7 linked regions of the Homo sapiens genome follow. The protein of the gene in region 7 interacts with the protein of the main gene of each other region in a biochemical or structural test. Each region holds a gene or a part of one and is shown on either strand. Other genes may lie near its edges.

Region 1 (4,244 bases), on a different chromosome or scaffold from region 7:
ACGACCCAACATTCTCTCCACACACCCAAACGGGTTTGAGGATGGCAACTAAATGTCTCTAATGTTTAAAAGGTACTTGCTGTTGGGGGCAGTGGCTCACGCCTGTAATCCCAGCACTTTGGGAGGCTGAAGCAGGAGGATCATTTGAGGTCAGAAATTCAAGACCAGCCTGGCCAACATGGTGAAACCCCGTCTCTACTAAAAACACAAAAATTAGCCAAGTGTGGTGGCGGGCACCTGAAGTCCCAGCTACTCGGGAAGCTGATGCATGAGAATCACTTGAGCCTGGGAGGAGGAGGTTGCAGTGAGCTAAGATTGCGCCACCGCACTCCAGCCTGGGCAACACAGAAAGACTCCGTCTCAAAAATAAATAAATAAATAAAATAAATAAAAGGTAATTGAAGGCTGGGCATGGTGGTTCACTCCTGTAACCCCAGCACTTTAGGAGGCTGAGGAAGGCAGATCACTTGAGGTCAGGAGTTCGAGACTAGCCTGGCCAACATGGCGAAACCCTGTGTCTACTAACAATACAAAAATTAGCCGGGCATGGTGGCAGGCACCTGTGATCCCAGCTACACGGGAGGCTGAGGCAAGGAATCACTTGAACCTGGAAGGCAGAGGTTGCAGTAAGTCGAGATGGCAACACTGCACTCCAGCCTGGGCAACAGAGCGAGACTCCATCTCAGAAAAACAAAACAAACAAAGAAACATAAAGGCTGGTCATGATGGCTCACGCCTGTAATCCCAGCACTTTGGGAGGCCAAGGCAGGCGGATCAGGAAATCAAGAGATCCAGACCATCCTGGCCAACATGGTGAAACCCCGTCTCTACTAAAAAAATACAAAAATTAGCTGGGCATGGTGGTGCGCTCCTGTAGTCCCAGCTACTCGGGAGGCTGAGGCAGGAGAACTGCTTGACCCTGGGAGGCAGAGGTTGCAGTGAGCCAAGATCGCACCACTGCACTCCAGCCTGGTGACAGAGCGAGACTCTGTCTCAAAAAAAGAAAAAAAAAGGTACTTGCCGACTTAAGGCAGGGAAACCCATCTCCCTGGGAGCTGAACTCAACCCATGGAGATATGTTCCTCTCTGAGGAATGCAGAGTATCTGGAAGACTGATGAGAGCCAGAACGCAGCCAATAACGCCCCAACAGTGCACCAGCTGCCCAAAGCCGAGGTCTTCCAACAGATGAGTTTTTCAGGTCCTCATGCCAAGAGACTCCTGGAACTTGACCTAGCTCAGCTTTATTGCTTTCCAAAACCTCACCTGAGAGCAGCAAATTAATTAGAAGAGGGGAAAGGCGTTATAGGCTAATCCAGTGACAGCAGCCCTCAGAAGGAGCCGCAGAAGACAGCAAGGAAGGAGATGGAAAAGCCAGGGCAGGCAGCTGGCAGCCCCCAGGAACGGCTGCCTGATAATAGGGCAACTGCCCGAGTGTGTAAAAGTGAGCTTGTCACTTTTCATCATGCTCACTGTTACCTATTCCGGAAAGCAGGAATACGATTTAAAGATTACCATAGAAAACAGTTTAAAAATCAGACAATATAAATATAGATTATCAAAAATAAAATATTTTTAAAACTTTAAAAAATGATTTTGCTATCTAAAACTCAGAAACATACAAGTAATAAGCCTGTTAACAGTAGTACTTAACTTTTATGAAAATCACATTATTCAAATAAATCGATAGAAATGATACTGGCAATGATCTTGCCACTAATATTAACTACTTACTTTCATTATTATTTTCACTTGTAGCTTTTAGAATTTAGATAACAATTCCAAATATATTTCAAAATCAACATTAAAAAATAATCTAAGCCCACAAAAAGGCAATGAAATCTTTTCACATATTTAGACAAATTTGTTGCAAATTGTATTGATAAAATTTTAATGCAAAATTCTATTAAAAATAAGCCACTAGTCAGATCTTACAAACAGCTTATTGTAACAAAAATTTTTAATGGAATTTGACCAATTTCAGAGTTACAGATCTAGGCCTTTGTGAATGCTAGCTAATATTCCAATTAATCTGGTGTTAGACCTTAGCTATTGCAGGGGAATGAAATAAAGTAAAACAGAGTTAAAAGACTTTGAATAAAGGCCTGATGGAGTTGAAGGAAAACAAACACAGCTGCCTTCAATAATTTCTGAATTCTAAAAGGACCAATCATTGGCAAATATAAAAGAATATGGACCAGGCACAGTGCTTCACGCCTGTAATCCCAGCATTTTGGGAGGCCAAGGTGGGTGGATCACCTGAGGTCAGGAGTGAAACCAGCCTGGCCAACATGGTGAAACCCCATCTCTACTAAAAATACAAAAATTAACTGGGTGTGGTGGCGCGCACCTATAATCCTAGCTACTTGGGAGGCTGAGGCAGGAGAATCACTTGAACCTGGGAGGTGGAGGCTGCAGTGAGCCGAGATTGTGCCACTGCACACTCCAGCCTAGGCGATGGAGACAGACATGGTCTCAAAAAAAAAAAAAAAAAATGTACGGAGGCTGACAGGGCACTGGAAAAAAATTTAAAAGGAAATAAAAGTATGGGGTTATTTTGAGAAACAGAGCATCTAAACTCTGAAACCTACAAGTGATGACAATTATGAAAGGTCAGTAGTAATACTTGTTGCAGGCTCATTGCCAGTGTCATTTCTATCGAATTTTTTTTTTCTTTGAGAGAGTCTTGCTCTGTCACCCAGGCTGGAGTGCAATGGTGCAATCTCAACTCACTGCAACCTCCGCCTCCTGTGTTCAAGCGATTCTCTTGCCTTGGCCTCTCAAGTAGCTGGGATTACAGGCATGCGCCACCACACCCAGCTAATTTTTGTATTTTTAGTACAGACAGGGTTTCACCACGTTGGTCAGGCTGTTCTCAAACTCCTGACCTCGTGATCCACCTGCCTTGGACTCCCAAAGTGCTGGGATTACAGGCGTGAGCCACTGCACCCGGCCTTCCATCAGCTTTTCTGAAGATCTGCTATCTCTTCTTGTCTCAGGTAACAGGAGTGCCTACCCTCAAATTAATGAAAAAGTGCAAACCAGAGGTCGCTGACCAAGACCCCAGTCATGTACAGCCCTCCGGAAAGTCTTCCTTACCTTACAGATGAAAGCTACGACCAGGGAAGAGTCCCTGACCCCTCTTCTCTGGCTAACACCTGAGGAAAAACACACTTGATTATCACAAGGTAAATGTGAAAGCTGTGAAGACATCACAGACTGATTATGACCCGATACCTAATTTCACTTCACATAAAAATTAATGGACGCTACTGTCCCAATACAAAGGCTGAAGACACTAATATACTCAAGAAGACTTTTTTTCCCTACTTATGTGGAGATGTGTTTGCGTAAATGAAAAACACAAAACTCTCACCAGAAAAACTTTAGAATGGCAAGTGAAATTTTTTTTAAATGACACATTTCACCTAGGACTGGAGAAGACAGAGAAAAATATATTGTAATGTGCTTTATAACACATATAATATATGAAATAACACAAAAGTTCAAAGGCCTGCAGAGAAAATGCTGGTGTCAGTCTTTACCCGGTGCCATCCAAACAAGGACAGCACATAGGGGTCAGCCTGTTCTCAGTCACTAGACAAGACCTCAGGACAGAAAGAGGAGCTGCCGAGCTTTGCCAACGCTGACCTTCTGTTAAGGACAACAAACTCCCGAAGCGGCCTGACTCCTGAGCTACATCTCATCTTGGACTTTTAACTCCGTTTCCCAGTGGGCTGTCATTCTGGAAGACGTGCAGAGCCTCTCACTGATTTGACTGTCTCATTGGCTTAGCAGTTATAGTTTCCACATTAATGGAAAATTTGCATAAATGTTACATTAATGAAAAATACAAAATGAATCCGTTTGTCAGGCCCTGTTCTCCTCTGGGAAAACAGAACACAGTTTTGGGCCTACCCAGACCCTGGGTGGCCAAAACTGTGGACTGGTCATTATTAAAGTTGCAGGCTGCCACCTTTACAACAACCCTTCTCATTCCCCCAACGGGCCAAGTTATAGTAAGCCCAGGAAGAAGGATCTGTTTACACACCTGGCTTTCTTACAATAATGACTCTCTACAAGCATTACAAGGCAGAGAATTAAGAAAACGCAAGCCTTTCTGCTGCTCTGTTTTGTTTATACTATTACCATGTGGAAGGTGTGGCTCATTTTCATTCGACTCGGAGTCTGAAGATCGCTCTGGACTGAGCCTGCTGAGAGGCCTTTCTGGACTCTGCCATGGTTG
Region 2 (4,244 bases), on a different chromosome or scaffold from region 7:
TAAGCAGAGATTGTGCCACTGCACTGCAGCCTAGGCAGTGAGACCTTGACTCAATTAGGAAAAAAACAAAAAAACAAAACAGATACTAGAACTGAACCAAGTGGCATAATTCAAAATGTCAAGTCAAAAATAACTCTGTAGCTTATAAAAGTGTTTAATTATAAATAACATTCTACTAGGAAAGAAAGCAGACAGGAGGGAAGAAATCAAATTTTAAATAACATCCTACCAGGCATACAGGCGAGAGAGGAAGATACAAGACTAAGTAAATTTTCTGCTATAATGTGGAAACCATGGAAACAAATCTGTATTTTGAGTTGGTAGGTAGGAAAAGACACCATGCTGGCTGTTAGGCAAGGCCTGAGATGACAGGAAAGCCCTTTTGGCTGTGCCTTTACTACTCAAGAAATGTCTGAAATAATGCATCACGTAAGGTGAGAGAGTACTCCTTTCACATCCGGGTACATCCTCACCCTCCTGTGGTAGAAGGGTAAACTGATGCCTGGGCTCTGAATACAAGTCCCATTCAACACTGCCCAGCACTGCACCCAGCTCTGCTACCCCATTCTTATCACCAGACTCCATGTTAAACATCCTCTGTACAGAGGCCCTTTGAGGCCCAAGAGGTCTCCCTCCAATACTTGGAACACATCTTTCTTCTCTTAGCACCTTCACAGCCCAAATTTCAGTTTCTAAATGATTTCTTCCTTAAAATTGATGGCTCTTCCACCCCCGAACTTTTGCCCCAGGATGCATCACAAATAACCTCCACAAGGCCCACTGTACTTCTGTCATGCAAACCATCATTCTGGCATGTGTAACTAAGATATACTGATGCCCAATTATCACAATCTGTCTGCCCTCACAATAATGGAGCTCATTTACTCCCTGGCAAATCCCACTCTCCCGGCCCCCTCCACCCCACGGTGTTTAGTCATATATCCAGCCTCTATTGGCGCTTGATAAAATGCTTCCAAGATGTTGAGTCTGTCTCATATCAAAAGGGGCCTTTTCATTGTGAGCAGGCCTACTCTTGGTACCATGATCACCTACAATCTTGTATGGTTCCCTAGGCTGTACTATTGCCTACTGTTTTTTTTTTTTTTTGAGACAGAGTTTCGCCCTTGTCGCCCAGGCTTGAGTGCAGTGGCGCAGTCTCAGTTCACTGCAACCTCTGCCTCCCAGGTTCAAGTGATTCTCCTGCCTCAGCCTCCCAAGTAGCTGGGATTACAAGTGCCTGCCACCACGCCCAGCTAATTTTTTGTATTTTTAGTAGAGATTGGGTTTTGCCATGTTGGGCAGGCTGGTCTCAAACTCCTGACCTCTGGTGATCCTCCTGCCTCAGCCTCCCAAAGTGCTGGATTACAGGTGTGAGCTACGACGTCTGGCCTTATACTATTGCATACTGTTAAATGAATATTCCTACACAGTACCCTCTCCCATCTTGGGGACTCTTGAGTTGCTCTGAGGCAGGCAGGTAGCCTGTAATATGCTCTTCAATCAAACACTTTTATTCCAGGGGACTCTCCTCAAGTGAGAACCTCCCCCTATCTTGCGAGGGTCAGTGATGTCCAAGGTTTGCAGCACAAGAAAAATACTCACAGACCATGCCTCAAGGTTTTAAGTCAAGGTCTCTAAATTTCTTATGGGCAAGATTCTGGTTGTTCCAAGATGCCCAGGCAGAAATAATGTTTCCAAGAGAACCAAAGAGCTGCTTCCAAAACATACATACTGCCACAGATGGAAAAGACCCTTCCAGTTCATGCTTACAGACATGCAGCAATTAACAGCCACTCTCTGGAGAAAATGTTAGGATACAACCAGTAATATACATTCACTACTAGGCTTTTGAGAAATAAGCTATGAAAATGCCAACCTGACATTGCTTCCCCAAGCCAATGGATCTTTCTATGTATGGTGCATCAATCTAAGTTAGGTAAGAGGGCTATAACTTGACACCAATCCTGAAGATGTCATCACATTTCTACCTAGTTTGTCACAACTGGGCCCTGTGTCCATATAAAACCAGTTTTCCTATCAGGACCACAAAAACACCTATGTCCAAGCATCCATGCTTGGCTGAGGCTGAATTAACACCCTCTGTATTGGTTTGCCACCTTCAGGGTACATCCCAAAATTCTGTTAGGCTGGTATTTGTTGTATTTTTTCCATCTATACTTGGGCCAGAAAGTATCTTAGAGTTCCTATTAGCATAAGAGCAATCATCGTGGCTCACTCTGTATTTGAATAAAAAAGAGCACAAACTATAGGACGGGCGCAGTGGCTCACGCCTGTAATCCCAGCACTTTGGGAGGCAGGCAGATCACGAGGTCAGGAGATCCAGACCATCCTGGCTAACACGGTGAAACCCTGTCTCTACTAAAAATACAAAAAACTAGCCAGGCGTGGTGGCGGGCGCCTGTAGTCCCGGCTACTCCGGAGGATGAGGCAGGAGAATGGCGTGAACCCAGGAGGCAGAGGTTGCAGTTAGCAGAGATCACGCCACTGCACTCCAGCCTGGGCGACAGAGCGAGACTCTGTCTCAAAAAAAAAAAAAAAAAAAAGGACTACAAACTATGAAAGAGGGTTTTGAACATGGCAGTATTCATCTCTTAGAAAGCGCTTTGGTGCTGCCAAACATTTTCCGTTACTTCACAGAACCTTGATGTCACCTATAAAAACCGTTTTACAAATGAGGAAGGCTCAAAGGTCAGGAGCTTACTGATGGTCAAACAACTATCAGGAAGCCCTACAATGAGGGACCCTGGAGTTCTGAGCAGCTGATCTAACCCACATTCCTCACACAGTGCCACAAAAGGAGGCTAGGTGGCCCTAGGACAGAAAGAAATAAGTAATGTGGACAAGTAGAAGTGGCCAGGCACGGTGGCTCATGCATGTAATCCCAGCACTTTGGGAGGCCAAGGCGGGCGGATCACCTGACGTCAAAAGTTCGAGACCAGCCTGGCCAACATGGCGAAACCTCGTCTCTACTAAAAATACAAAGATTAGCTGGGCTTGGTGGCAGGCACCTGTAATCCCAGCTCCTCGGGAGGCTGAGATAGGAGAATTGCTTGAACTCAGGAGGCGGAGGTTGTTGTAAACCAAGATCATGCCATTGCACTCCAACCTGGGTGATAGAGGGAGACTCTGTCTCTAGACAAACAAACAAAAACAAAGTAAGAAAGGAGAAAGGGGATGAATGGAAGCTAATATATCAAGTGTTAGCAGCATATGAGACATATAACTGAATGCTCAAGAAAAATGAGAATGTTGGAGAAGAGCACCTCATTCTAGTTTTAGGGGTTTTTTCCTTTCAGCTGACCCACTTCAAAAGATGTATAGGAGAGCTGGGCACGCTGGCTTGCGCCTGTAAGCCCAGCCACTTGGGGCTGAGATGGAAGAACTTGAGCCCAGTTGTTTGAAACCAGCTGGACCAACACAAGACCTCATCTCTAAAAACATAAATTACCCAGGTGTGGTGGCACATACCTACAGTGCCAGCTATTTGGGAGGCTGAGGTGGAAGGATCACTTGAGCCCAAGAGTTCAAGGCTGCATGATCATGTCACAGCACTGCAGGCCTGGGAGACAAAGTACAATCCCTGTCTCTTTATTTAAGAGAAAAAAAAAAAAGTATGAGAGGCCAAGCAAAGCATTACTTAGACAACAAAAGGAAGCAGAAGATTAAAAAAAAAAACAAAAACAAACCAAAACCAAAATTAAAACCCAAAAAAACCCTCCAATTTCACAAGAGCTTTGTTCCAGTCTTGCCAGAGGGCTTTTAGGACAGAAATGGGGAAGCACTGTTCTCACCATCAATGACAATAAAATAAAACAACTGTGGCAGGCTATTTTATGTTAAAGTAAAAAAAAATCTTTTGGCCGGGCACAGTGGCTCATGCCTGTAATCCCAGCACTTTGGGAGGCCGAGACGGGCAGATCACAAGATCAGGAGATCGAGACCATCCTGGCTAACACGGTGAAACCCCGTCTCTACTAAAAATACAAAAAATTAGCCAGTCTGGTGGTGGACACCTGTAGTCCCAGCTACTTGGGAGGATGAGGCAGGAGAACAGCGTGAACCCAGGAGGCAGAGCTTGAACTAGTAATCTAATACTGGGACATCTGATTAAATACTTTGACAGAATTTTTGTCAAAGTCCAAGCATACAAAGAAGTTCATCTGAGCATTATCTATATGGCAATGAACTAAACTTCAAATATACGTAAACTTGAAAAGAGCACA
Region 3 (4,244 bases), on a different chromosome or scaffold from region 7:
GGAAGCAGGTTTGTCCAAGCAGTTCCTAGCTGGACTTTTTCCTTGAGTTTAGTGATTTGGGAGCCCCAAATTGATTTTCCTTTCACAGCATTTATGAACTGCAGCATGAATTGTTTTATTAAGTGGCTAACCATGTTCTAGAAACCAAGAGATGTGTTTGTGTGTGTGTTTGTGTGTGTATGTGTGTGCATATGTGTGTTTGTGTGTGTTTGCATGTGTGTGCGTGTGTGTGTTTGGGTGTGTGTGTTTGTGTGTGTATATGTGTTTGTGTGTTTGCATATTTGTGTGTGCATGTGTGCGCATGCGTGTTTGTGTGTATTTGCATGTGTGTGCACGTGTATGTGCGTGTGTGTTTGCATGTGTGTGTTTGCATGTATGTGTTGGCATGTGTGTTTGCGTGTGTGTGTGCGTTTGCGTGTGTGTGTTTGCGCGCGCGCGTGTGTGTGTGTGTCTAAATGGCTTCTTTGTTACTACTATCAACTGTCATCGGCAGGTCCTTTGGCGTGGTCCTTTGGGAAATCACCAGCTTGGCAGAACAGCCTTACCAAGGCCTGTCTAATGAACAGGTGTTGAAATTTGTCATGGATGGAGGGTATCTGGATCAACCCGACAACTGTCCAGAGAGAGTGTAAGTGTAGAAAGGGTTTAAGGTGTGTGAGGTGTTCGTTGAAAGGGTATTGCCCTTTACACGTGTGCTTGGTTTTGCCTTTCCTATGTCTACACGCTCACCGTGTTTGCATGCTGTATGTTACAGGTGTGTTTGTGTTTGCATAGCTTGTCTTTACATGCATGCTTGCATTTGCATATTGCATTGTGGTACACACACTTGAGTTCCCATATGTGCTACATGTACGCTTACGTTTGCATATTATATATTTACATAGGTATTTATGTTTGCATATTATATGTTTCTGTGTGCATCAGCATATCATGGCACATGTACACCTCATTTACATATTATAAGCACACATGTTTACATATTATGTCTTTACCTGCCTGCTTGTGTTCACAAATCATATGATTTTCTTGCATATTGTATCTTTGGAAGGTTGCACAAAACACCTATAGCGGTAGTTATCTTGGGAGAAGGGAACTGGAGACCTGGGGTTGGGGGAGAGAGACCTGTTTGCCTGTTAATTTTTTTTTTTTTTTTTTTTTTTTTGAGACGGAATCTTGCTCTGTCACCCAGGCTGGAGTGCAGTGGTGCGAGCTCGGCTGACTTCAAGCTCCGCCTCCCGGGTTCACACCATTCTCTTGCCTCAGCCTCCCGAGTAGCTAGGACTACAGGCACCCACCACCGCGCCTGGCTAATTTTTTTTTTTTTTTGTATTTTTAGTAGAAATGGGGTTTCACCGTGGTCTCGATCTCCTGACCTCGTGATCCACCCACCTTGGCTTCCCAAAGTGCTGGGATTACAGCCGCCTGTTAATTCTTTATACACTTAAAATTTTGTCAGGTAGCTGGGCATGGGTGGCTCACGCCTGTAATCCCAAGCAATTTGGGAGACCGAGGTGAACGATCACCTAAGGTCAGGAGTTCAAGACCAGCCTGGCCAACATGGTGAAACCCCGCCTCTATTAAAAATATAAAAATTACCCAGGCGCGGTCGTGGGCGCCTGTAATCCCAGCTACTCAGGAGGCTGAGGCAGGAGAATTGCTTGAATCGGGGAGGCAGAGGTTGCAGTGAGCAGAGACTGCACCATTGCACTGCAGCATGGGTGACAGAGTGAGATTCTGTCTCAAAAACAAACACAGACACACAAAAATTTTGTCAGGCATACATATTATATATTCCCCCCTCCAAATATATATGCATATGTACATATATATATATTTAGATGAAGTCTCGCTGTGTCACCCAGGCTGGTAGAGCGCAGTGGCACAATCACAGCTCACTGCAACCTTGAACTCCTGGACTCAGCCTCCTGGCTCAACCTCCCAAAGTGCTGGGATTACTCTTGAGCCAGTTTTGAAATGAGGAATCCCTTTTCAAAACCATCTTTCAGGCTGGACAGGATGGCTCATGCCTGGAACCTCAGCACTTTGGGAGGTTGAGGCAGGAGGATGGCTTGAGCCCAGGAGTTCAAGGCTGCAATGAGCTATGATTGCGCCACTGCACTCCATCCTGGGTGACAAAGTGAGAAACCCTGTCTCAAAAAAAAAAAAAAGCGGCCAGGCATGGTGGCTAACACCTGTAATCCCAGCACCTTGGGAGGCCAAGGTGGGTGGATCATTTGAGCCTAGGAGTTTGAGGCCAGCCTGGGCAACATAGCAAAACCCTGTCTCTGCAAAAAATACAAAAATTAGCTAGGCATGGTGGTGCACACCTGTGGTCCCAGCTACTTGGGAGGCCAAGGTGAGAGGATTGCTCGAGCCTAGGAGGCAGAGGCTGCAGTGAGCTATGATCATGCCACTGCACTCCAGCCTGGGTGACAGAATGAGACGCTGTGTCCAAAATAAGAAGAAGAAAAGCAAAAAGAAAACACCATCTCTCAGCACCTCTAGCAATGCTATTTCTGCCTTGACAATTGTCCACACACACAGCCAGCATCTGATGTGAGCACATGTGGTCCGTGGGTGTCGGCTGCAGGGACAAGAGTGGGGGTTTGGGAGGATGCGTGGCAGGGCCCCCAGACTCACCCAGGACGTGTCCTTCTGCCCCGCAGCACTGACCTCATGCGCATGTGCTGGCAATTCAACCCCAAGATGAGGCCAACCTTCCTGGAGATTGTCAACCTGCTCAAGGACGACCTGCACCCCAGCTTTCCAGAGGTGTCGTTCTTCCACAGCGAGGAGAACAAGGCTCCCGAGAGTGAGGAGCTGGAGATGGAGTTTGAGGACATGGAGAATGTGCCCCTGGACCGTTCCTCGCACTGTCAGAGGGAGGAGGCGGGGGGCCGGGATGGAGGGTCCTCGCTGGGTTTCAAGCGGAGCTACGAGGAACACATCCCTTACACACACATGAACGGAGGCAAGAAAAACGGGCGGATTCTGACCTTGCCTCGGTCCAATCCTTCCTAACAGTGCCTACCGTGGCGGGGGCGGGCAGGGGTTCCCATTTTCGCTTTCCTCTGGTTTGAAAGCCTCTGGAAAACTCAGGATTCTCACGACTCTACCATGTCCAATGGAGTTCAGAGATCGTTCCTATACATTTCTGTTCATCTTAAGGTGGACTCGTTTGGTTACCAATTTAACTAGTCCTGCAGAGGATTTAACTGTGAACCTGGAGGGCAAGGGGTTTCCACAGTTGCTGCTCCTTTGGGGCAACGACGGTTTCAAACCAGGATTTTGTGTTTTTTCGTTCCCCCCACCCGCCCCCAGCAGATGGAAAGAAAGCACCTGTTTTTACAAATTCTTTTTTTTTTTTTTTTTTTTTGCTGGTGTCTGAGCTTCAGTATAAAAGACAAAACTTCCTGTTTGTGGAACAAAAGTTCGAAAGAAAAAACAAAACAAAAACACCCAGCCCTGTTCCAGGAGAATTTCAAGTTTTACAGGTTGAGCTTCAAGATGGTTTTTTTGGTTTTTTTTTTTTCTCTCATCCAGGCTGAAGGATTTTTTTTTTCTTTACAAAATGAGTTCCTCAAATTGACCAATAGCTGCTGCTTTCATATTTTGGATAAGGGTCTGTGGTCCCGGCGTGTGCTCACGTGTGTATGCACGTGTGTGTGTCCATTAGACACGGCTGATGTGTGTGCAAAGTATCCATGCGGAGTTGATGCTTTGGGAATTGGCTCATGAAGGTTCTTCTCAAGGGTGCGAGCTCATCCCCCTCTCTCCTTCCTTCTTATTGACTGGGAGACTGTGCTCTCGACAGATTCTTCTTGTGTCAGAAGTCTAGCCTCAGGTTTCTACCCTCCCTTCACATTGGTGGCCAAGGGAGGAGCATTTCATTTGGAGTGATTATGAATCTTTTCAAGACCAAACCAAGCTAGGACATTAAAAAAAAAAAAAGAAAAAGAAAGAAAAAACAAAATGGAAAAAGGAAAAAAAAAAAGAACTGAGATGACAGAGTTTTGAGAATATATTTGTACCATATTTAATTTTTAAAGTCTCTGGTATTAGCCTCATAAGTTATTGACTATTCCCCGGGGTTGGCGGGGAGTGGGGACATGAGTTGGTCTGCCTGTTGTGGGGCCGGGAAGGGGAGGGAGTCAGGCACAAGTGGCCTCTTTGTTTGGTCTTAAAGGCATCCATTTCTGGGAATGAAGCCATGTTCGCTGCTAACACTTTTGGATGTTGTGAGG
Region 4 (3,312 bases), on a different chromosome or scaffold from region 7:
CCATTTTCCCATGTTTTCCTAATTCTAACTCTTAACAAAAGTTCCCAGGAAGGAGGCCATGCTTAGGACAGGAGAGGTTAAAGAGCAGCCTCATTTCTGGTGATGGAGATATTTGCTTTCAGGCAATTCGGACAGTTGGAATCCAAGGGATATGCACAGTAGGGAAGTGAACTTGGCTTTACTCCTTCATCACTGGATCTTGTTTAGAAGTCAGTCTGCAAGGATAACACATAGGAAAGATGCCATAGAAATATGCAAACAAAATGGAAAAAGGGTTTTCTCAAATCACAAGATGAAAATTCAGATGCTCTGTTCTGAATAGGGTTCCCTTGCCAAATTCAGTATCTCTATTTAATCCAGACTTTCAAACATAATTGAAAGAAAAAAAAAACACCCACACATCCAAATCAGGCCAGCATTAACTGAATCCTGAGTTTAAGTCCTTATTTACAACTTTCTCATATTCTAACTCAACATACTGAAAACTGAAGTGACTACCTTCCTCACAAAGCAGTGACCTCTCAATTTCCAGTTTGGACATTACTAGGATCCTAATCATTTAAGCCTAAAACTGTAAACTTTAACAATTCCTTATCTATCACCACTCCTACCATTAATCTAACCATTTACTGAATTCTGACAATTTTCTCTCTCCTAAATCTTTCAATTACTTGCTTAAACCTAACTCTTTTAAATTTGCGATTATATAATCAGAGGCAAACTAACTCTTCCAGTCTTGTCTCACTGCTCCCCTACACACGGCTACACTTTACGTAAATAGAAAGGCCCACAATTCCTGTAAGTTTGTCTCTTGCTTTCCCATCTCTGTACCTTTGTATCTACTATTTCTTCCCTGTGAAATGCCCACATCCAGGGATGGTGTCATGATTCCAGGGCCCAGTGCAGAATGAAAATGTGGAAGTCCTTGTTGAAAAAGTGAAATAAAAGGTTCTCTCTGTTAAAGGTACTAAAATATAAAACAGTTCACTTTTTCCTGTGTATCTCTTCTGTTCAGGCACATGCTCTATTGTCCTACAGGACTTTGCTTACAACATTCAAACTCAAATATAAAATTATTAAGGATAATTTTATTATCAGGATATTATCAGGATAATGATAGCAGAACACTAAACGAAACACAAGCTAGGGCCATATGTGACTGCAGGGGTCACATGCCCACAAACAGCTTTGAACTCATCCCCTTCTGGGCCTTTCTCAATCCTGCCCACCTTCAAAATCAAGTGAAAGGCTTCTGCTGGGTGGATGAGGAAGTGTCCATGCTCTGAGCCTCTGGTCTGCTCTGCCCCAGGATGGCCAAAGTGGCTCCCTCATAGCACTTTGTAGACTTCCCTGAGAATGCCTTTTATCTCCTATTAGTTTATAAGTTTCCTAAGAGAAAGGGCTACAACTTCATTCATCCTGGAATCACCACATGAGTTACATATAATAATTGCTTAATACATGTTTGCTGAAAATGAATACAAGAGAACAAAGCAGAAAGCACTGCTATTTTGAAGCCACATGCAACATTTCCTCGAACTGCATTCTTTTTGGAGCAGATATCACTACTAATGCAAAAGTCCAAGTTCTCCAGCTGGCTAACTGGTGGTGTCTTGTTTTCCTTTTCAGTTTTTAAATTAATCTTTCTATCAATCTTTTTAAGGACATTCCCCTTTAGAGATTATTATTGAATGTTAATAATGGATATATTTGATAGTCTCTAAAATGTATGAATTCACTAATTTATTCAGATTTATAAGCCTATGTTTTCAACTTTTAGAAATTACTTCGAAGAAGAAAAAAGGAACTCTTTTGGAAACACTTTCTACAGATTTTAGTTAAAAAATAACTTATGGTACTGCTTTTCACAGTGGCTTTTGAAAAATTCTGTACATTTAAACAGGTTATCAAAGATCTTCATGGAACTTCTTTGATAAAGAAGTTGAACCATTCAATAAGAACCTTAGACTTCCACCACTGGCTGAATTCTGTAATACCCTAAGAACCGTCATCCAATTCACACCCCTCCCACACAGACACACATATCCATCTTTTCATATAATATTTTGAGTTGAAAACTGAGAAAGCTCATTTGTGCTTGTGGCATAAGCTGCTTTTTAAAAAACACAATAAAATTGAATAAATTTAAACAGCAAAACATTAATTTAAAAAAATGCACCACGGACACTGCATCACTAAGAAAGCCAGTAACTTTACTGAATTGTCTGCAAAATACAAATTATACCTTATTTCCAGCAGGAGAAACTTTTGAAAATTTCCCACTTTTATTCACTACAGACAGCTGAATTAAGTCCCTTGAGATACACAGATGTGGTTTAACTTAGTTATAACATCTTGTCATCTAGTGGCGACAAAGTCCAGCTTATGCCGCTGTGAGCCTCTATTTGAATATTTGTTGCAAATGCTTGTATGCCCTCATTTACAAGCGATTTTAATTACTCTCATTTAATGGAAACAAGTCCCCAGGAAAAGAAAAAGAAGAAAAATGATACAGCAAACCATCTGAAGCAATCCAAGTCCTATGCCTACAGTGACCCAGGTCTACTTTGCTCGAAGAGAACACTGGTACTGCATTCAAACCACAACAGAATCCGTCACTTAACTGACCTCTCTGAATTAAACTGAGGTATGAATCAATTTGAGGTATGAACAGGGAAGGCAAAATGCAATACCAGATTATGAAAATAACCAAAATGGAAAAATTTGATGTAGAAGATATGTGGCTTGGATTGCTCCACATCTTTGGTTAAAACATATTAAGAAAAGCCTTTAATTACATCTGTAGTCTGAAGCATTCTAACAGACACCAGTATTCCAGCAATCTTCAAAAGATCTGTAGTGGCAGGAAATTAACGCCATAAAAGTGACGACATCACGGCAGATGGCACAAATGAGAACAGATGAAGTATGCCATGCTTAGGCAACAGCCTTTATTGAGGGTTCAAGTGGCTTCTTCTTCTTTAAAAAAAATGTTTTTTAAAGAAAGAACTACAAAGCGTTTACTCTCTGGAGAAACAAACAACAAAATAAAGAGGGCAAAAAATGCTATCTCTAAGTTAAAAGATGGGTATGTAAGAAAAACAAATCCATAAAAGTGTGTGAGGGCAGACATTCTTTTAAAAAGTGTCTTGGAATTTTGTTTTTTCATTCTCACTTTAGTTAACTTTTAAATGATCTGGGGATGACAGGTATTTTTATATTCATCATTACAAAATGCTAAATTCCACCTTTGGGAAAAAATAAGCCATTTTACTAAAAAACACAATTTTTAAAAAGGTTGAAATAAACAGC
Region 5 (4,244 bases), on a different chromosome or scaffold from region 7:
CTTTCTCTCTTTTTCTCTCTCTCTCTCCCTAGCATTACATCTCTTAGTCAGTAACTGCTTGAACTTAATTGATTATGCATACATTTTCAAACCTAGATCAATTATTCTGTCTGAACTTAGTGACTTAGGGGCAATAGTCCTGTGCTGAATCGTACCACTGGCAGCTGGAAATAAAGTCTGTGTAAATGAAAAATGAGAGATGTAGAGAGAACAGAGGGAAAAAATGGACTTCTCAGGGTGGAGAGAAAATAATTCCAGTGAATTAATCTTTTATTTCTTGACTTTAACATGTATATGGGGGAAATGGTACAGTGTTTTTAAAATGTTTATTTTTATATGAATATACAGTTTTATTTTCTTCTTTCTTCCCTTGCCTGAAATTCTCAAAGATTCTGATAAAGAAGTCACTCAGCTCCTTCTCTGAAGGGAATATTTCACTATTCTCAGGGTTATGTTATATTCAATAAACATTTAAGTGCTTACTTTGTTCAAAGCATTAATGGGGTTGGGAGAGGGGATGGGATAAAAGAGATGTAATTCATGGATGGTTTGTTTCAAAGTTGAGGGTGGGAGATTTCTTTCAAGGCAAATGACACTTTGATTGGGTGGAGGGTAAGGAAGGGGAACGGTTACGTTTCTGAAACAATCCCGGGGTCTGTAATACTTCCACAAGATTCTGTTTGAATATCTCCCTCTTCTCCCCTCATCCAACTCTTACTACTGGTTGGTAACTGGTGTTTTGTCATTGATGGGTTCCTTTCTTCTGTGACCTCAGGCAAGGTCAGCCTGTATATCCCATCACGGGTGGATTCAGGCAACCCTACCCATCCTCACTGTCAGTCGACACTTCCATGTCCAGGTAGGTGGAGGTGGAAACTGGGGCGCTCGAGGACAAGTTGCTCTTCTCGTGCTTGCATCCTGTGCGCCTCTGCTTGCCTTTTGGTTGGCTAGGAGGGTGCATACCTCAGCCATGTGTCTGTCTGTGCAGTGTGCCTGGCTCCCACACTAGGTGTCAGAGAGAGTCCCGGGTAGGAGCTCTGCGCTGTGCCCCGGCCGGACCAGCCACACCATCGGGCGATGGACTCAGCCTCCTTGGAAAGCGTTGCCTCCAAACAAATTCATGGCCGCCTGACTGTGGGATGGGAACTGTCCGGAAAGCGGACATTACAAGAAGAGTTTGTTTGATTCAAAATATGCCGGGGGTGGGGTAAGGGAGGAGGATAAAACTGGTTTGGTCTCAGCTCTATAATTTGCTTCCTTTGTGGAAAGTTGTATCAGTTTGATGCGGCAGTGTTTGAAAATGCCCAGATAGTCTAGAGCCTTCCTGGATGGAGGCTGTCAGAAGAGACAGAACAGTGCGGACAGGCTGGCAGGCCATACAGGGTGTGCGTCCTAGTGTGTGAATCAGGCCCTGTGTGGACATGGTCATGCCAGCGGAGCTCGGGAGGCCTGCCGCGCCGCACCGAGAAGCTGCTGTGTGTGATGCTTTTGCTTCTGGAGAGGATGGCACTGTGCCCTGTGCTTGATGTACACACACATTTGGGGTGCATCATCTGTGTGTTCGATGTGGCTTTGTCAAGGGAGCTAGCATTATTGTGCCGGAAGTCAAACTGGTGGGTTATTAACTGGTTGTGAATATGTCTTTTTTATATGGGTATAGTATTCAAAGTTTCTGTGGTGAATTACAGCTTTAAAAAAACTTTTTTTTTCAGTGAGTTGTAAATGTAGCTGATTGTGGGAGGAGGTGGAATTAATATCCTTCCCCTTAAAACATATTTTTATACTTTTTAACATTGTAAGAACTATCTGATGATAGAACTCTCACAGGCAAATAACTATCATCATGTATTTTTGCAAGTAATACATTTAGCAAAGCATCATTATTTGGTCAAATATTTGTATTTTTACCATGCTTCCTTCATATTTTAAAATTTGTTTTTGAAAAATATATATCCTAGCAGAGTTCCTTTCAAGAAAAGGAAATTAATTGTGTAGGCTGTGATGAAAGACCTGAGAATGTTGTTCTTGCTGAATTAAATGTTTACTTTAAAAAGTTTGAAAAGCAAAAATTTCTAAAACATATCCAAATTTATCTAGAGAGCTTATTGAAAATACTGTCTTTATTTTATTTTTCTTGCCTGGCAGTTTCCCTCCTTTGTGTTGGCTGGTGGTGGATATTTTAAGATTTTTTTTAATGCTGTTCAAGCGTACTTGGGAAAAAGCCTTTGGCAAGTGTAGTTTTTAACCTTGATGCAGAACTTTATCCTTCCTTTAAATTCTTCTCCTTATTTCTGTTACCAGTTTTCCATAAGATGAGATCTCTGAAACATTAGTGTATTTCTGCACAGAAAATCATTTTGGATGATGTTAATGGAAACCTTATTAAATGGGAGACTGATTCCTATCCGTTTTCTCAGTTGTTCCCTCCTAATATGGATGAGGAAGCCAATAATATGAGAAAATTCCCATTGTGATGGTTTGCTTAGGAATATAGGCAGAGATTTTAAAACATGATGTGTTTTGCTTTCATTTAAAAATCATTTAAAAAGTCAAGTCTTAAATAAAGTGTTATATTTCCAATAATTACTTTTCGTGAAATTCCTATTTCAAAATTGCTTTGCAAGAAAAATGATTCACTTTTTTTTTTCCACCCGAATATAGAAAGAAAAAAATAATTATCGGCCCACTCTAATTTATAGTTAATGCTTCTGTGCGTAAAGATGTGTTTTTACTCTTAGCCAGTAGCAGTTAGTGGATTGCTTTGAAATTCCATCTAGCTTTTGCTGCAACAGCCAGTAGTACATTGTTTTCTTCTCTTTCCTCCTTTCAGGTTTTCCCATCATATGATTCCCGGTCCTCCTGGTCCCCACACAACTGGCATCCCTCATCCAGCTATTGTAACACCTCAGGTCAAACAGGAACATCCCCACACTGACAGTGACCTAATGCACGTGTAAGTATCCACCCGGGCTCTGCTGTGATTGCCTTAGGATACTGAGGATTTCTACACTGTTGCTCCTTTGCAACAGTGATCCTTCACCCCTTTGTGTTGCTGTGAAACTCAATGCACCTCTGCCTTGAAAACTCTGTCCCTGAGGACATTAAGCAGCTTCATTCCTACTGTGCTGATTTTGATTCTGAGGTTGCAAAGGAGCACGGACCCTAAAAGATCATGGGAACCTCACCAAAATGGAAGAATCTTCAGAACATAGGCATTCGAGACTCTTCAGCTGTTTAGCCATTTACCACTGAATTTTCATTTGGTTCAGATTATTGGGGAGAACCTGTTCCTACCTGAGTGAAGTAGATTGGAGGGTTTAATGCACTTTCTTCTGGAAGTGCAGTTACCCTGGCTCCAAGCTTCAACAGCACAGAATTCAAGGGAAAGGAACAAATAAAGCCCAGGATTCCCTGTTGGGCCAGGGTTGTCTCAGACTGTGAGTGCAGGCCTAAATTAATTTACTCTGAAGAGATGAGTAATTAGTTTCTTAATCTAGGTTTTGTGGATGGGAGGGTGGGGGTGAGAGGCAGCATGTGATGGTCCATAAAGCCCTTGCGAATGTATGCAAAGGCAACATGCATTTGTTTGGGGGAAAAGGTCTAAAGATTTATTAGCTTCTCAAAGTGCTCCTTAACCCCCTGCAAAAGTTAAGAACCTCTATTCTGAAAGAGGAATGATCACCTGTGCTGTGTGTTCAGCTTCTTCTGAGGGGACCAGAGAAGTCCTCAGCCTCAGAGCCCATCTGGAGCATCTTCACAATGCCAAGTCCATTTCTACTTGGTGTTCATAGTTCTATAATGACAGGTCCACTTTCTCAAACCAAAGGGTTTTATTCTCAGTCACTGAGTAGATAGGAAGCCCTATTGGATGGGTTGTTTGCCTCTCAGTGTTTTGTCAAATGAGTCAATAACTGCTCTTCCAAGTTGGTGGTGGTCTGGGGTGAGAGGGTTGTCGCCATCCTGAGTGTAGCCATGTGAGCAGGTGCTCTGCTTTTCTCCTCCCCCATCCCTTCCTCATTCCTTCAACCCCTTCCCCTAACCACCACCACCACCACCTTTTAGGAAGCCTCAGCATGAACAGAGAAAGGAGCAGGAGCCAAAAAGACCTCACATTAAGAAGCCTCTGAATGCTTTTATGTTATACATGAAAGAAATGAGAGCGAATGTCGTTGCTGAGTGTACTCTAAAAGAAAGTGCAGCTATCAACCAGATTCTTGGCAGAAGGGTAAGTAGCCGAGTCATGT
Region 6 (4,244 bases), on a different chromosome or scaffold from region 7:
TCATCCTAACCCGAGCCCTGGGCGGGGCCAGGCCACAACCCTTTCCTCACAGGAGCAAAAGGCTGCAAGACAACTGCAAGCGTTAGAACAGCACCACCACGGCCCAGCCGGGCCAGCACAGCCAAGCAGCACAGTTGGGACAGGGCAGCGCAGCCAAAGGCACATCCAGGAGGGGGCCCCACAGCCGTCAGCCCCGCTAGGCCACAGCTCCAGGTGAGCAAGCAGCAGGTTAAGGGAAGCAAGGAGTTCGATCGGCTTCCAAAAGCAGCAGGCAGGTGTGCACCCACAACACACACACCCTCTCCAACCCCACCAGACCCATCTGGATGACCTGACTGGGGCCCCACGGGCGAAGAGGGTTGTGCTTAGAAACTCTGCAAGGATAGATGGTGGGAGGAAAAGCAGCAGACAAAGGCATCCTCCAGCACAGACGTAACTAGAAATATGAGGATGAGCTACTGATAACCCATCGAGGCACCGTATCAAGACTTCCTACTGCCTTGTCTTTTATCTAACAAGGCTCTGAGGTGCGTGCCATTTTATTTCCACATTACAGATAAGGAACCTGCAGCTCTGGGAGGTTAAACTTCACACTCTTGAAGGCAGTGTAGCTGGGATTTAAACTCAGATCTATCTTGCCTCTGACCCCATGCTCTTAATACTGTTATGCTGAGACTCAGGAAGCACTACATCCCCAACACAGTTCCTCGCTGTCACGATTTCCCCATCATCCCACTCCCACCCCCACAGACCTGACTTCCGACTCTGCCCTTCTTCCTGGCTCAGCGCTGAGGCAAGGCCCACTGCACATCCTGGGGGCTTTCTACTCCCCTCATCCCAGGCCATGTTTTTCCACCCACACTTCTCATATTTCTTTGGGCCCCAGACTCAGGGGCCCCTGCCTGGTCTCAACAGCACCTCCAGTCTACCCCCCACCCCCAGCAGAGGCCATGCTCCCAGAGCTTACTACCACGGGCAGGTGGGTGGGACTGACAGCTGTGGTGGGGGTCCCTGAGGGGCTTCAGGACGAGCCAGGGAGACGGAAGCCAGAATGTGCCTCCCTCACACTTACTGGCTGAGGAGCAGAGAGAAGGCTGGGGCTGCATGCCTGCAGAGGGGGCTGTTCTGTCCCGGGAGCTCCGTCCTTCAGGCACCGAGCTGCCATTCCCAGTGCGGAGCGGGGCAGCTAGCCAGCCAGGGCAGGGCAGGGCAGGGCAAGGCAGAGCAGCCAAAACAAACAGAACAAGGCAGGTGAGCGAGCAAGCCAGACAGGCCCCGAGCCCATGGCGCTGCAGAGCCGGGGCAAGGGGACGCCTCGCCTCAGGCTGCTGTGGACACTGGACGACATCCCACGCCGCCGCCTCTGCCAGAGAGGCCTCCCAGCTGAGGGCACCAGGCAGGTGCCCAGACCTGGGCTGTGGCTTCCAGACGAGCCTTACAACAGCCTGTCCAAGGACCCCTGATCCCGGGGAAGATGTTCCAGGGGGCCAGGCCACAGGGTCCAGAGCCCAGCAGTGACAGCGCCTCCTATGTTGCCAGCAGTGCCGGAATCAAAACTGATCTGACCTCACTCACAGGGGCCTGGAGCTACTATGATTCACTTCCTCGCAGCTTTCTGCTATTTTTTTTGGTTCCAAAAGGTTTGGTGCCCCCTTGCCACCCAGGGCATGCTCTCCCAGCTCTGTCCTAGAGTGTTCCTCTGTCTTTTCTGATGTCCTGGCCCAAGGTCACTTACTGAATTCAGGCAAAGGGAGCAATTCCAGGAGGCCCAATCAAAGAGCAGGACAGAGATTCCCGGGGGTCCAGCCTGCCATGCCCTCCCACCGCCCTGGCACTCTAGCCAGGCCCAAGCTTAGGCTAGTGGTCCTTACGGGCCCACCAGGACATGACCAAATGTGGCCTCACGGTTGTCAGATTAGTTCCAACTCCATCATTCAGGCCAAAATCTTAGGACTAGAGTGACCAACTCATCCCAGTGTTCCCAGGACTATCTGGGTTTTATATTTATATATATATATATATATATATATATATTTTTTTTTTTTTTTTTTTCTTGAGACAGAGTCTCGCTCTGTCACCCAGGCTGGAGTGCAGTGGTGCAATCTCAGCTCACTGCAACCTCCACCTCCCGGGTTCAAGCCATTTTCATGCCTCAGTCTCCCGAGTAGCTGGGATTACAGGACCCCGCCACCACACCCGGCTAATTTTTTTTTTTTTTTTTTTTTTTTTTGAGAAGAAGTTTCGCTCTTGTTGCCCAGGCTGGAGTGCAATGGGGTGATCTCGGCTCACTGCAACCTCCACCTCCCAGGTTCAAGCGATTCTCCCACCTCCGCCTCCCGAGTAGCTACGATTACAGGCACCTGCCACCACACCTGGCTAATTTTTTATATTTTTAGTAGAGATGGAGTTTCACCATGTTGGCCAGGCTGGTCTTGAACTTCTGACCTTCAGGTGATCCACCCACCTTGGCCTCCCAAAGTGTTGGGATTACAGGCGTGAGCCACTACGCCCGGCCTTTTTTTGTATTTTTAGTAGAGACGGGGTTTCATCATGTTGGCCAGGCTGGTTTTGAACTCCTGACCTCAAGTGATCCACTTGCCTCGGCCTCCCAAAGTGTGGGGATTACAGGTGTGAGTCACCGCACCTGGCCTATTTATTTGTTCCTAATTTTTTTTTTTTAATAGAGACAAGGTCTTGCTATGTTGCCCAAGCTTGTCTCAAACTCCTGGTCTCAAGCAATCCTTCTGCCCTGGCCCTCCCAAAGTTCTGGGTATTACAGGTGTGAGCCAGCACTCCTGGCCCATCACAGTCTTAAAACCAAAAGTTCTGTGTCCGAGGAAAACCAGGAGTGATTGGTCACTCTATTTATGACTCATAGCACTTACAGGCTACTTCGGCAGGGACTTGGGGTACCCCTGTTCTTGGATGGCACATCATTATCAGCAACAGGAACAGTTCTCTGAGCCCTGGCCCCTGGAGAATCTCTAGCTTAGCTATTTTAGACTTGGGGTCAAAGAAGAGAAGCCTCTTGCCCAACTCAGCAACACCAGACAGGGGCCTCATATCTTGGCTCGTGGAAAGTAGCTTTTATACCAAGCCCTCTCCTAGGGGCATAGGAGCCAGCATTCCCAGTTCTGGGGACAGAAAAGGCAGGTGCCCCATTGGAGCCCAGGTACCTGGGTCACTGCTGGAGTCCTTCCCCCTCCAAGGGCCAGCACCTACCTTTGAGGTCCTCATCTTCTGTGGTGGTGTTGCAGCTCTCTGTGGAGCCCTGTAGGCCAAAAAGAACATGTTTCTATATGCTCCATCCCTTGGAAGCCAGAGGAGCAAAGCAGAACAAAAGCAGAGTTTCTGCTCCTACAAGAGGTGCAAGGAGGAATTGTGGAAGGTTCTGCTTCCACCCTGGCTGTCTGACTCTTCCCAAATCCCCTCCCTAGTCTTCCCCCAGTTGGTAAATGCCACCATCTACCCAGTTACTCAGGCTAAAACCTGGAGTCATCCTCAATCCTTCTCTTTCTCTTTTTCCCTTATATTCAGATCGCCCAATCTAAAATAAAATCTTCTGGTTCTGCCTCCAAAGTAAACCCCATGTCTTACCTCTTCACTTCCAATGCACAGCTACAACCTGACTCCAGGCCACCAGCATCTCACACCTGAACCATGATAACAGCTTCATGGTCTCCCTAACTTCCACACTTACCTCCTCCCTAGAGTTTTTCTTTTTTGAAACAGAGTTTTGCTCTTGTTGCACAGGCTGGAGTGCAATGGCATGATCTCGGCTCACTGCAACCTCTGCCTCCCGGGTTCAAGTGATTCTCCTGTCTCAGCCTCCTGAGTAGCTGGGATTACAGGTGCCTGCCACCATGCCTGGCTAATTTTTGTATTTTTATTAGAGATGGGGTTTCATCATGTTGGCCAGGCTGGTCTCGAGCTCCTGACCTTTGCTGATCCACTCGCCTCGGCCTTCCAAAGTGCAGGGATTACGGGCGTGAGCCACCACGCCCGGGCCTCCCTAGAGTTCTTGATCATGAGGCCAGAGTGGTGTTTTAAAGTGTCAACTAGATTCTGTTACTCCTGCTAAGAACTCCCAATAGCTTCTCCTTGCTGCTGGAAGAAAATGCAAACTCCTACAAGGGCCTCTGTAGCAGGCCCTGCTGCTTCTCCAACCTCATCACTCTCCTATGGTTCTCCCCGTCTCACTTTGCTCTTCCCTCTGCTTGATTACAAAGGCCACATCTGAGCTT
Region 7 (4,244 bases):
TCTCAGCTCACTGCAACCTCTGTCTTTCAGGCTCAAGTGATCCTTCCATCTAGCCTCCTGAGTAGCTGGGACCACAGGTACACGCCACCATGCCTAGCTAATTTTTGTATTTTTTGTAGAGGTGGGGTTTCACCATGTTGCTCAGACTGATCTCAAACTCCTGTGTTGCCCTGGCAGGTCTCAAACACCTGGGCCCAAGAAATCCACCAGCCTTGGCCTCCCAAAGTGCTAGGATTACAGGCATGGGCCACAATGCCTGGCCTGAAAGAGTTAAATAAGTTTGATAATACACTGAGTTAATGAGGATATGTGGCAAGAAGGCATTCTTATTCATAACTAGTGATGGTATACACTGATACAAATTTAGGCGTCCTGTGGTACCTGGCGCATTGGCTACATCTAAGACCACCTAGGTATGTCAGTGAGCTTGGCTCTGCTCAAAATATTTGACTTCTCTTTTAAAAACTGTTATCAGAATTAATTTATGAACCACAAAGAAAAGCAGTCTCGTTGCTTCATTTCCACCTTTATTCTTTATTACCAACACCAAACAGCACCTCAGGTGGTAGTCAACTAAGTAATTCCTGGCTGTTTTCTACAGCGGACCTAGTGAAAAACCAATGGTGCCTAAGGCGGTGCTGAAGGAAGAATTCTCAGCAGCAGTTCTCAACAACAGATCACAGAAACAAGGCTGTCCTCCTCGGGCATCTCTGGGGAGGTGGAGGTCAAAGGGATGGAGACGTTCTGTGCCGTTACGGAAAGAGGCAGTCCCTGTACTTGGGGGTCAGATAGGAAGCATTCCAGTTTCTCTAGTTTCTTCTTTCCCCTTCCTCTTTATTCAGTTCCTTGAAGCATATGGCAGATGCCAGCTGGTGGTAAAGGAATGACAGTTTTCCAGGCCAGAGCAAGCAAGGTGAGGGGTGGGGATGGTATTCTATATCCCTCCAATCTGGAACTGGAACCAGGTAGAGATAAGGATAACCTGTGGGGGAATTGTGAAGTAGACTAGCCAGTGTAGATGTGTGCACTTATGCAGAGTGGCCTACCTGCCCCCACCCCACCTCCTTCCTAGTGAGCTGAGGAGGACTTGGAACCAGAAAGACAATGAAGCACTCAGGCCTGTGCCAAGTCTTCCAGACTCCTCTTCCCTCCAGGTCGGAGCTCAAGAACCGGGCAGTGATTCCCATCTTATAAGAGCTTTGTTGGATGACAGCCAATGTTCAGCCTTGTCTGTCTGTAATTCTCTTTAAATCTTCTGAGGTTTCCCCATTACTAAGCTCCCGCCCCCTGACCCTCTCTTTGCCTGAAGATGAAGCTTTCAGGCAGATGTTATTTTTTCCCACTATGTACCTGTTACTTGGGTGGAGATTTCTTTTTAATTCTCCAACCAAAAAGAACTACTCATTTCCTTTTGCCTCATGGCCTGAGACATACTTGGATACAGAGTGGGGTGGACTCACTGAGAAACCTTTTAAAGAGAAGATGCAGTATCATTTAAATGCACAATAGACTTCTAGCCCATTTGCCAAAAGCCATCCCAAAGAGGGCTGATATCGTCTGTTAAATGCTGTAATTACAGAGTTGAAACACATACTCTTTCAGACATGAAGTCAGAGGGCTTCTGCCATCCTGCCTGCCTAGACGAGCTGATCTGAGTACAATCACAGAGGAGCACTGGAAGATACCACAGCCCAGGTAGCCAGCCTGGGAAATGGTTTCTCATACTGCAAAGAAGTCATCTGACCCAGAAATACTAAGAACCAAGTGAATTCCAAATTGCACACACGAGAAGAAAGTAAGAGGTCGCCAACCAAGTCATTTCCCTGTCCCCAAACCTCCTGAGCCTTCTCCTTGCCCCCTTCCCACCTCTTCCCTACCACTTACCTCTCTCCCTCCTCCCACTGCACACTCACCATCCCCACTGTGCCTCTGCTCAGGTTATGCTGTCAAAGTCAAATGCTATCCACCCTCCCTGCCCACCTTAATTGCCCCCACTGGAACCCTGCAGCAGTTTATGCTACAGACTGGGCTTTCAATCACCTGATTCCACACTGCCTTATAATTGGCATTAGTGGCACCTGTGACAGCAAATCAAGGTCCTCCCAAATAAAAAGTATCTTTTTCCTACAGTTTCCACAAGGCTAGGCACAAAATTGGTGCTTAAAAAGACTGATTGACCAACTAACATTTGACTTGGAAATATAAATAAAGCCCAGGCATGGTGGCTCATGCCTGTAATCCCAACACGTTGGGAGGCTGAGGTGGGAGGATCACTTGGGCCCAGGAGTTTAAGACCAGGCTGGGCAACACAGCAAGATCCTGTCTCTGTTAAAAAAGAAGAAAGGAAATGTAAATAAAATAGTCCCATGCATCAGCAACAGCCGCCACAGCTGAACTGTCACACTTTTGCACCATCTTCTGAATTCAGCATCGTCTTCCTTAGACTGTGGGATGCAAATCGTGGTTTTCTTATGCCAAAACAACTTCCGTGCCTGTCTTGTACTCTGAAGACAGTAATTATTAGCCTCGAAGTTTTCTGTTGGCATGAGCACTACGATCCCCCAAGGAGTGGAATGCAGTAGCTACAGTTTCAACTGACACACATCTGACTCTATCCCCCAAGCCCCAAATGTGCAATAAAGAAAGTAAAAATTAGTTGCTGTCCACTTGGCTTCCAGGAACAGGGTGAAAACTTCAGATCTTATGGCCTGCCACACTGGAAGGCCTACTCTGATTTGAAAGAAGCTGGCTGGGCACGGTGGCTCACGCCTGTAATCCCAGCACTTTGGGAGGCTGAGGCGGGTGGATCACAAGGTCAGGAGATTGAGACCATCCTGGCTAACACGGTGAAACCCTGTCTCCACTAAAAATACAAAAATTAGCCAGGCGTGGCGGCGTGCACCTATAGTCCCAGCTGCTGGGGAGGCTGAGGGAGGAGAATGGTGTGAACCCAGGAGGCGGAGCTTGCAGTGAGCTGAGATTGTGCCACTGCACTCCAGCCTGGGCGACAGAGCGAGACCTCGTCTCAAAAAAAAAAAAAAAAAAAAGAAAAAGAAATAAGGTAATTCTGAAATCCACAGCAATGCTTCAGTGCTCCTAAGGGGCCGCTTTACTTCTGTAAGCTGGGTTGGGTGAATTGGTCCTCAACCATGCATCTCCTCCAGACCCCATCCTCACTCCAAACATACACATATTCCAAAGTTCATCAGAACCTTTGATCACAAAACAGACAATGAGAGCAGCTGATCAAAATGGAACCCTATGAAAGGCAAAGAGCAGGGTGGAGGAAACATACCATGCATTTCAAGGAAAACAACTTAAAAATTAATGAGCTCTCAGGAAAAGATGGCATCACAAGAGAATCAACCAACCTAGATCTTCTGAGCACCTGTCAGTCGATCAAGAAGCATTTATTGCATGCCTACCATATATAAAGCACTGCTGGAAATGTTGAAGCAGACACAAAGATGTAGCATATATAAAAAGGAAATGTTTGGGAAAAAGTGATTTTAGCCTCTGACCTCAAGGTGCTTGTATTAGTCTGTTCTCACACTGCTATAAAGAAATACCTGAGACTGGGTAATTTATAAAGGAAAGAGGTTTAATTGACTCAACAGTTCCACATGGCTGGTGATATAGTTTGGCTGTGTCCCCACCCAAATCTCATCTTGAATTGGAGCTCCCATAATTCCCCATATTATGTGAGGGACCCAGTGAGAGGTAACTGAATCATGGGGGTGGGTCTTTCCCGTGCTGCTCTTGTAATAGTGAATAAGTCTCACGAGATCTGATGGTTTTATAAAGGGGAGTTCCCCTACACAAGCTCTCTCGCCTGATGCCATGTAAGATGTGTCTTGCTCCCCCTTCACCTTCTGCCATAATTGTGAGGCCTCCCCAGCCATGTAAAACTGTGAGTCAATTAAACCTCTTTTATAAATTACCCAGTCTCCGGTATCTCTTTATTAGCCGCGTGAGATCAGACTAATACAGCTGGGGAGGCCTCAGGAAACTTACAATTATGGCAGAAGGGGAAGCAGGCACCTTCTTCACAAGGTGGCAGAAGAGAGTGTGAGTGTGTGAAAGTACAGGAAAAACTACCATTTATAAAACCATCAGATCCTGTGAGAATTCACTATCATGAGAACAGCATGGGAGAACCACCCCCATAATACAATTACTTCCTTCCCTCAACATGTAGGGATTACAATTCAAGATGAGATTTGGGTGGGGATGGAGACCCAAAC

The links.
Region 1: the proteins of SMAD2 (region 7) and ELAC2 form a complex in vitro, tested with the Homo sapiens proteins (one study listed by BioGRID).
Region 2: the proteins of SMAD2 (region 7) and RHOA form a complex in vitro, tested with the Homo sapiens proteins (one study listed by BioGRID).
Region 3: the proteins of SMAD2 (region 7) and INSR form a complex in vitro, tested with the Homo sapiens proteins (one study listed by BioGRID).
Region 4: the proteins of SMAD2 (region 7) and MEF2C form a complex in vitro, tested with the Homo sapiens proteins (one study listed by BioGRID).
Region 5: the proteins of SMAD2 (region 7) and LEF1 form a complex in vitro, tested with the Homo sapiens proteins (one study listed by BioGRID).
Region 6: of the proteins of SMAD2 (region 7) and CAMK2G, one has a biochemical effect on the other in vitro, tested with the Homo sapiens proteins (one study listed by BioGRID).

What each region holds. Positions count from the first base shown.
Region 1 is NC_000017.11:13,007,516-13,011,759, forward strand, and holds part of ELAC2 (zinc phosphodiesterase ELAC protein 2), read right to left. Parts: coding exon 4,148-4,244; intron 3,157-4,147; coding exon 3,098-3,156; intron 1-3,097. UniProt on the Homo sapiens protein: Zinc phosphodiesterase, which displays mitochondrial tRNA 3'-processing endonuclease activity. Involved in tRNA maturation, by removing a 3'-trailer from precursor tRNA.
Region 2 is NC_000003.12:49,370,190-49,374,433, forward strand, and holds part of RHOA (transforming protein RhoA isoform 1 precursor), read right to left. Parts: intron 1-4,244. UniProt on the Homo sapiens protein: Small GTPase which cycles between an active GTP-bound and an inactive GDP-bound state.
Region 3 is NC_000019.10:7,115,833-7,120,076, reverse strand, and holds part of INSR (insulin receptor isoform Long preproprotein), read left to right. Parts: intron 1-493; coding exon 494-628; intron 629-2,666; coding exon 2,667-3,021; 3' UTR 3,022-4,244. UniProt on the Homo sapiens protein: Receptor tyrosine kinase which mediates the pleiotropic actions of insulin.
Region 4 is NC_000005.10:88,716,049-88,719,360, forward strand, and holds the end of MEF2C (myocyte-specific enhancer factor 2C), read right to left. Parts: 3' UTR 1,069-3,312; downstream 1-1,068. UniProt on the Homo sapiens protein: Transcription activator which binds specifically to the MEF2 element present in the regulatory regions of many muscle-specific genes. Controls cardiac morphogenesis and myogenesis, and is also involved in vascular development.
Region 5 is NC_000004.12:108,078,201-108,082,444, reverse strand, and holds part of LEF1 (lymphoid enhancer-binding factor 1), read left to right. Parts: intron 1-775; coding exon 776-859; intron 860-2,830; coding exon 2,831-2,953; intron 2,954-4,062; coding exon 4,063-4,225; intron 4,226-4,244. UniProt on the Homo sapiens protein: Transcription factor that binds DNA in a sequence-specific manner. Participates in the Wnt signaling pathway. Activates transcription of target genes in the presence of CTNNB1 and EP300.
Region 6 is NC_000010.11:73,818,460-73,822,703, forward strand, and holds part of CAMK2G (calcium/calmodulin-dependent protein kinase type II subunit gamma), read right to left. Parts: intron 3,272-4,244; coding exon 3,223-3,271; intron 1,187-3,222; coding exon 1,073-1,186; intron 437-1,072; exon of another isoform or gene 1-436.
Region 7 is NC_000018.10:47,808,443-47,812,686, forward strand, and holds the end of SMAD2 (mothers against decapentaplegic homolog 2), read right to left. Parts: 3' UTR 515-4,244; downstream 1-514. UniProt on the Homo sapiens protein: Receptor-regulated SMAD (R-SMAD) that is an intracellular signal transducer and transcriptional modulator activated by TGF-beta (transforming growth factor) and activin type 1 receptor kinases.